Linked DNA regions of Homo sapiens. The protein of the gene in region 2 interacts with the protein of the main gene of each other region in a pairwise test. Each region holds a gene or a part of one and is shown on either strand. Other genes may lie near its edges. The genes, in order: CLRN1 and SLC34A3.

Region 1 (3,814 bases), on a different chromosome or scaffold from region 2:
TGTGTGGATATATTAGAGATATTATTTGTTTTTATTAAAATATATTCCATGTGCCTTTGATATCTTTTTGATAGGAAGACATCTTACACACACACACACACACACACACACACATATATATATATGGAGTAACAATTTGTCGATTCTAGTCAACTGCCTTTGACTACCTGGGTCAAGCAATTTCCCACCAGATAAAACAACTTTTCAAAGCCTTCCTTCTGCTTCCCTTACTTTCCAGCCTGTATCCTTAGTACGTAATTTGTAAACATTGTCACGAAGGGTCCTGATGCTTTAATATATGCAGACTAAAAGGATATGCAAAATTAACCACATCTAAAAGTGACCAAAGCAAGTCTACTCCCTTGTAAAATTATAGAAAGGTTTGCCTTTCAGTACATTAGATCTGCAGCTACATTAGTTGTTTCTGCGTCTTTAGATTTTGCAAAAGGGAACTGAAATCCAGCAAGTCGTATTAGGAGCCCATTCAGAAAATGAACAAAAAAGCAAAAGAAAATGACCCAGAATGAGGTGGTATATTTTTCACTTTGCGTTTTGTAGACATAAGTCCCTTCTTTATAATTTGCAATTTTTTCTGAGAGGTGATGGATTTTCACTTCAGAGGCAAACAATATCATGACAAGACAGCCACAGGAGCCTGCAACAGAAGAAACAAGGTGTTGGGACAAATATTTCCTGATTGTAAGGGACAGGGAAGAGGGTCAATGTGTAAACCAAGGAATTCTCTTACCATCATCCCCATTGACATTATCCACACAAAAAATTATTGCATATTTGTAATCATGAGCCTGATTCTTCAGTCTCTAGGTGGTAGGGCTTGGGTTATGGTTCTGCTCTGAGTGAAGAAGATTTGTGTGTGCGTGTAGGAGTGCAGTGGGAGGTAAGGAGGTGGTTAGAATTAAGCTGATCTTACAAAGACTGGGAGATATTCCTCTTTGCATGATGTGAAGGCTGAATTGCTAGGCACTTTAAAGGCATAATGGTGGAATCAGGCTACAAAGCAGCCACTGCTATGATGTGGCTTCAAGAGAAAATATTTCTCTGTACTTCACAGGCCATGCAGGATAAATGTCAATCATGCAGCCTCTTGTGAAAGGCCCCAGCCTCCCTTCAGAAGGGTTACCACAGCTCCTTCAGCTTTCACTTGGCCACAGCTGCACAAAGGAAAAGGTAGCTATGGATGAGGTATTGAGGTGGCGCACATCTCTATTCTCCTTGTTTGTAACAGAATTCAGATTTTTGGCTAGACATGTGAGTGTCTTGAATTAAGACAGCATTGTTCAACTAAGGGTGGTTGGGAAGTATGGGCGGGATAGTCTTCTTGAACTATACAGGTATTAGGGGCCTGTCCTTTCTTCCCCACTTCCTCCTTCCTGTGGCTGAAATATGGATGCAATGGCTGGAGCCCCAGCATACATTTTGGACCAATGTGGCCCCAGAAATGGAAGCCATATGCTGTGGAAAAACAAGAAAGAGGGAGTCTAAATCCCAGATCCTTGGAGCCTCTGGACCAGCCCTGGACTTCAACCTCTAGATTTTTATGTGTGAGAAAAATAAACATTTGTTTTGTTTAGTACACTATTATTATTTTTCCCCCTCATCTATCACTCATTGGTAGCCTAATTTTAACAGATGTAGCTGTGATTTCGGTGAGATTGCTGTGGGACAGGGGCACTCCATACTGGCTGGAAGCTGGAAACTCTGGTGAGTGTCTCCCCCGAAGATGGACACTGGGAGACTTCCAGATGGGTGGATGGCACAGGGAGCAGAAGCAGGTGGCAGGAGGGACCAGATCAGGAGCACATAGGATGGCCAGGACTCTACAGCGCTTCCACAGCTACTGTTATATCTCAGGCCACCACAATAGGGTTCCAGTTAATAGGAGACTTGCTGGGATGGTTTTCTACCTTAGGTGAAACCAATTTGGGTTCAAACCCTGATTCCTTTACTTACTATGTAAAAGTAGGCAATTTTAATATTCAGGTCTCAATTTCTTCATCTATAAAAGGTGGCTAATATAAATAAAGCATGATTTGCATTTGGCTTTGTAATTGACACATATAAATGCTTACTAATTGGTAGCTATTCATATGGTTTTTATGGATTCCTTTTTTCTTGCAAGTCCTTATCATAATAGCTTGATTTAGGTCAAACCAATTTGGTTTCAAATCCTGATTCCTCCACTTACAATGTCAAATTAGGTATTTTATTTCAAATCCTCAGCCCACCCCATATCAGGGACACCTGACTACATCAGGGTAGGCAACACAAAAGAATGTATTACAGTGTCTTTTTTTTCTCCAAATACTCTCCCACTAATTTTATGTCTCCTTTAGGACAGGTAAATGCTTTTTACTCTTCAGTTAAAGTTAATCCAAATATCCTAGGAGTGGCAACATAATGGCTTGAGTTTCTATTCATTAATTCACTCATTCATTTATTCTCTAGACTTATATGGGGGATAGTTGTGGAGATTTAAACATTAAAGATAATACTCATGATTTTTGCTCTCATGGAGTATAATTTGGCAGAGGACATAAAATCAATTACTAACCAATTACAGTGCATGTAATCAAGGGATAGTAGAGGGGCTGTTACTGAGAGGGTGGGCAGCATTATGGAAGGTTCCTTAGAAGTAGCCAGAAGGAGCTATAGGAAAAGTTAGCTGAGCAGAGGGAGGCTGGACTGTGGGGGGAGAGTACTGCAGGCAGGAGGAGCTACGGTGCAAGTGACAGCCCCCATTCCTTTCCCAAAGGTCAGGCTGGGTTTGGGGTAGAGGCAGAGATTTGGGGGTAGGAATGAGGGGAGAGGTGAGCAGAAAAGACAACATCACATTTCTTCTACTTTAGAATTTCACATAGGACTGGCCAATCAGCTTAATCATCATCAAATAATCAAATAATATAATTTTCTTGAAATTTCACTTTCTACCATCCTCAGAGTGGTAGCTGAGAATATTCCTTTGTAAAATTTTGTCAGCCTATTTTTGTATTCTGAGCTTAAAACCAGAGCTCTCCCCTGGCAAAACCGTATTATTTCTTTATTGTTAGATCCTAACAAAAAGGCTGCAGTGCTGTTTTCTCTTTATCTTTTATTCGAAAATTGTGGAGAAAATGCCATTCCTTTTACCATAAGAGCCTTCTTTGTCTGAGGAGATGGTGAATTTCAGACAGAAGTGAAACATTATTTCCTGAGCACCTGAAAGGAAAATTCAAGCTCGGTTTCCTTTTCAAGTTGTTAAATATTTCAAAGGTACTGCTTTGTTAAGGAGACAGCATTACAGCAAGGCTGTATTTCAAATTCCTAAAGTAAAAGTTACTTGGGGTGTCATAAGACTCAAAGCCTTTTGCCATAGCTAATATTTCAAGCACACAGCCCCCAAAACAAAGTGTGCTGTCTGGTAGTAGAGAGGACAGTCTGAGATCTTGCTCTGGATTCTAGGGTTGATCACGAGGTCAACGTTGTCGTTTCAGGGACAGAGGATAGAAACCCAGCCTGAGTCTCATAACCTTTCAGTGACTGCTAAGAGATATGAAGGGAGACAACTCAGTGTGAACTTGGTATATTTTTGCTTCTCTCTGTCCATGGCTCTAAAAAAGACATGGGATCAAGGATAACTATTTATGACTTATGGACCAAAAGATATGCATGAAGAGTTTCTCTTTGTGGCATGGCTGCTAAGGCTATAAAAGAAGTGTGTAAGTGATATGAGTGATGTGAGAATAAGACTCAACCTACACTCTTCCAGTATGACCCTTTGAATCCAGCAAGAGGGGCTCCTGCTTTGTGCCCCACA
Region 2 (3,469 bases):
CTTCCCTTGGCGGGAGTGGGGGTTGGGTTAGGGCTGTGGGCAGCTCTGGGCTAGAGGTGGCAGGAGCCCCCCCTCAACTTCCTAGGTGTCCAGTTACCCATTGGCTGGCAGACAAGCCTTCCTGTGTGGAAACCCGACCACACAGCAGAGGGAGGGCCCCCTGGCCCCCAAGTCCTCCCCATGGGTGCTGTCCGCCCTCCTGGGCCCACCCCACGGACAGGCCTTCCCGGGACAGGGTCTCATTCTCCGTGGCAGTGGGAGGCCTCAGTGTGCCCCAGCCTGGCGGGTGAGACTGGCTTCCTGGTGGGTTCTGGGAGCTGAGCACCTGCCGTGGCCCAGCCCTGCAGAGAAGTGTCCCCGAGGGGCCCAGCCCAGGACCGGCTGAGAGACACAGAGGGCAGACAGACAGGTGGTGCCTCTGGGACCACCTGGCCCTCCAAGCCGTCAGGGTCCCTTCTCACACCCCACGCACCTGATGGGACTCCAGTCCCCACCCCAACCATGACATCCGCCGGGGCAGAGGAGCTCCGGGATCCCCCACACCCTGCACCACCGGCCCTGCTCCCTGCTGGCTGGGCTCTCCCCTGCGCCCCCAGGAGGGGCCCCAGCTCCCACTGTGGGAAGTCCCCGCCCCCCCAGGCCCGCCATTCCTTGGGAGCTTCTGTCCCCAGCGGCTGCCGTGAGAAACACACCTTGGGGTGGGCGGGCTCCTGTGCCTGAGCCCCAGGCCCCGGAGTGTCCACCAGGAGGCAGCATCGGGCTGCTTCCCCCACCTGCGCAGGCGGCCCCTGTCTAGGGGAGTGAGGACCGCCACCCCAGATAACAGCCTGGTTTATTTGCACAGAAGGGGAAGCAGGTGACCGGAGGTCAGCTGCCGCGGGGACCCCCCCTCCAGGGCCCTCCAGAGCCCTCCCAGCCGGGGAGGGTGGGGCGGTCTGCTCAGCAACTGCCCGTCACAACTGCTGGGAGGCCAAGATCTCAGGGTTCTCGTAGCAGTAGGCCTCTTTGGTGGTGGCCTTCGGGGGGCTGCAGACGTTGCAGGGGCAGCAGCGGGTCACCAGGCGGTCCCAGGGCTCCAGAGAATGGAGCCAGACGGGGAGCCAGGCCCAGGAGCGCAGGCGGACAGGCAGCCAGGCCGGCCGGCGCCGCTGCAGGACAGTAACCAGGATGACGAGGAGCACCAGCCCCACCAGGGGACCCCCGACAGCGGCCAGCTCCATGCCCCCTGCCAGGGAGAGCCCGAAGGCCGCCAGGGGCAGCAGCAGGAATCCGAGCAGCAGGTAGACCCCAGCCACCCAGCGGTAACGGGCGGTCACCACCCCGAAGTGCCTGGCCAGCGGGATGGGCAGCCGCAGTGCAGGCACCAGGTACCACAGCAGGATGCCGGCCAGGTTGAAGAAGAAGTGGATGAGGGCGACCTGGGGGCGAGGGGGCTGTCAGGGGCCTGGGCCCAACGAGGTGGGGTCACCAGGGGCCCCGGACCCCTGCCCTCCTCCACCCTACAGAAGGAGCGCCAAGTCTGAAGTTCATCCTGCTTCACGGATGAGATGGCCGTCTGGGAGGCGGGCTGTGGCCAGATGTGGACATGTTCCCCAGCACGCCTCCCGCACGCTCCTGGGAGCTGCAGTCCAGCCCAGCACCCCCGAGCACTGACTGCATCACTGCTGCCCTCAAGGGGGACCTGCGGGGGAAGCACCTTCCGACCTGGCTCTGCCTGTGCCTCCTGCCAAGAGACCCCGTCTCCTCAGTCCCCAGTGTGCTGAGCCTGCACAGTCCAGGCCCTGCGGGGAGGAGGCACAGGGCCACAGGAGGGGAGAACAGTGTCACGGGCCCCTCCAGGGGCTGCCGGACTTGGAGGAGTCCACACACAGGTGCAGTCTGGAGGGCTTCCTGCAGGGGGTGGAGCAGGACCCTGCACTGGGAGGGTCTAAGTGGATAGAGACAGGGCAGAGGCAAGAAGAACGAGCGTGGGTTCCAGGGGGTGCCGCACTTGTCTCTTCCTGTCAGCGGCGGTGCAGCATGACCCGGAGTTTCGGGAGCTGAACCTGTTGGGCCTCCGGGCAGCAGGCCGCAGACGGGCTGTTTTAGAGGGAGAACCAGCTGGACTAAATGAGACTGGGGTTGGGGCACAGAGCTGGGGGCTCAGACTGGGGGAAGTGTCCTGGAGGCAGAATCACAGCCCTGGCAGCGGCAGGGCAGGGCCCAGCATCGGTGGGACTCGGCCTTTGCAGATGTGGAATGGGGGCTGGGAGGGTCGTCCAGATGGGGACCTGCTGGAGGTGAGTGGCTGCTCCTTGAGGGAGCAGGGGTTGGGGGAAAGCATCTGAGGGTGCTGGAATAGAGGGGCTTAGAGCCCCCTGAGATGCTGGGGGCAGGCCCCCAGGGACACAGCAAAGAGCTGAGAAAATGTGGAAGTGAGGAGGTCTCAAGGGAGGAGACGCAGGGAGGGTGTGAAATGTGTGCAGGACCTGTGGGGTCCAAGGAGGCAGAGCAGCAGGGCTGAGGCTGGCGGCCAGGGAAGGGGTCCAGGAAGGCGGGGGCACAGCCAGCCTAGGGCCCCGGGGCTGGTGACACACTCCTGTCTGTGGGGCTGAGAGGAAGCTGGCCAGTTCTGGCAGCGGGGCAGGGTGGACAGTACCTGCAGGGCGCTGAGCATCCTGTCTGCGGGGCTGGCCAGGGCAGCCAGCAGGGCTGTGGTAGTGGTGCCGATGTTGGAGCCCAGTAAGAGGGGGTACGCCCGGTCCAGACTGATCACCCCGACCCCTGGGGGAACTGGGAGTCACCACAGGACCCCAGCCCGAGCCCCCGTTCCCGAGGCCTCTGTCCTGCCTGCTCACCCATGAGGGGCACGACGGCCGCCGTGAAGACGCTGCTGCTCTGCAGTGCGAAGGTCAGGCCGGCGCCCGCGAGGACGGCCAGGTAGCCGCCGAGCCAGCCCAGCGGGAAGGGGAAGTCTGTGGGGGATGCCGGGTCAGCCCTGGCCAGCGCCCACAAGGAGGGCCAGGTAGCCCCCGAGTCAGCCTGGTGGGAAGGGGAAGTCTATGGGGGATGCTGGGTCAGCCCTGGCCACCGCACCTCCTCCCACGCCCTCACCCGCATTGATGACTGTCCTCACGACCTGGGCCACGCGGCCGCGCAGCACAGAGTTGAGCAGCTTGACTATGAGGACCAGGCAGCCGCAGAGCACCAGCAGGGAGCCGGCCAGCAGGATGCAGCCCACGGCCAGGTCCGTGAGCTCCGTGCCCGCAAACAGGTGGCGGCCTGGGGGCAGGGCAGGGGCAGGTGAGGGGGAGCCTGGGGGGTGGGCCGGGGTGGGCCGGGCCTCACAGGGCAGCCTGTCCGCCGGGGCTGTGCTGTTCCTCTCCATGTAGGGGCCGGTGAGGGGGAGTGTGGGGGGTGTAGGGGGCTTGGGGTGGGCCGGGCCTCACAGGGCAGCCTGTCCGCCGGGGCTGTGCTGTTCTTCTCTGTG

Evidence for each region.
Region 1: the proteins of SLC34A3 (region 2) and CLRN1 interact in binary tests that used the Homo sapiens proteins (3 or more experiments, as listed by UniProt).

Annotation. Positions count from the first base shown.
Region 1 is NC_000003.12:150,927,547-150,931,360, forward strand, and holds part of CLRN1 (clarin-1), read right to left. Parts: intron 656-3,814; coding exon 390-655; 3' UTR 1-389. UniProt on the Homo sapiens protein: May have a role in the excitatory ribbon synapse junctions between hair cells and cochlear ganglion cells and presumably also in analogous synapses within the retina.
Region 2 is NC_000009.12:137,233,901-137,237,369, reverse strand, and holds the end of SLC34A3 (sodium-dependent phosphate transport protein 2C), read right to left. Parts: coding exon 3,429-3,469; intron 3,262-3,428; coding exon 3,094-3,261; intron 2,955-3,093; coding exon 2,838-2,954; intron 2,764-2,837; coding exon 2,639-2,763; intron 2,080-2,638; coding exon of another isoform or gene 1,537-2,079; intron 1,419-1,536; coding exon 954-1,418; 3' UTR 815-953; downstream 1-814. UniProt on the Homo sapiens protein: Involved in actively transporting phosphate into cells via Na(+) cotransport in the renal brush border membrane. The cotransport has a Na(+):Pi stoichiometry of 2:1 and is electroneutral.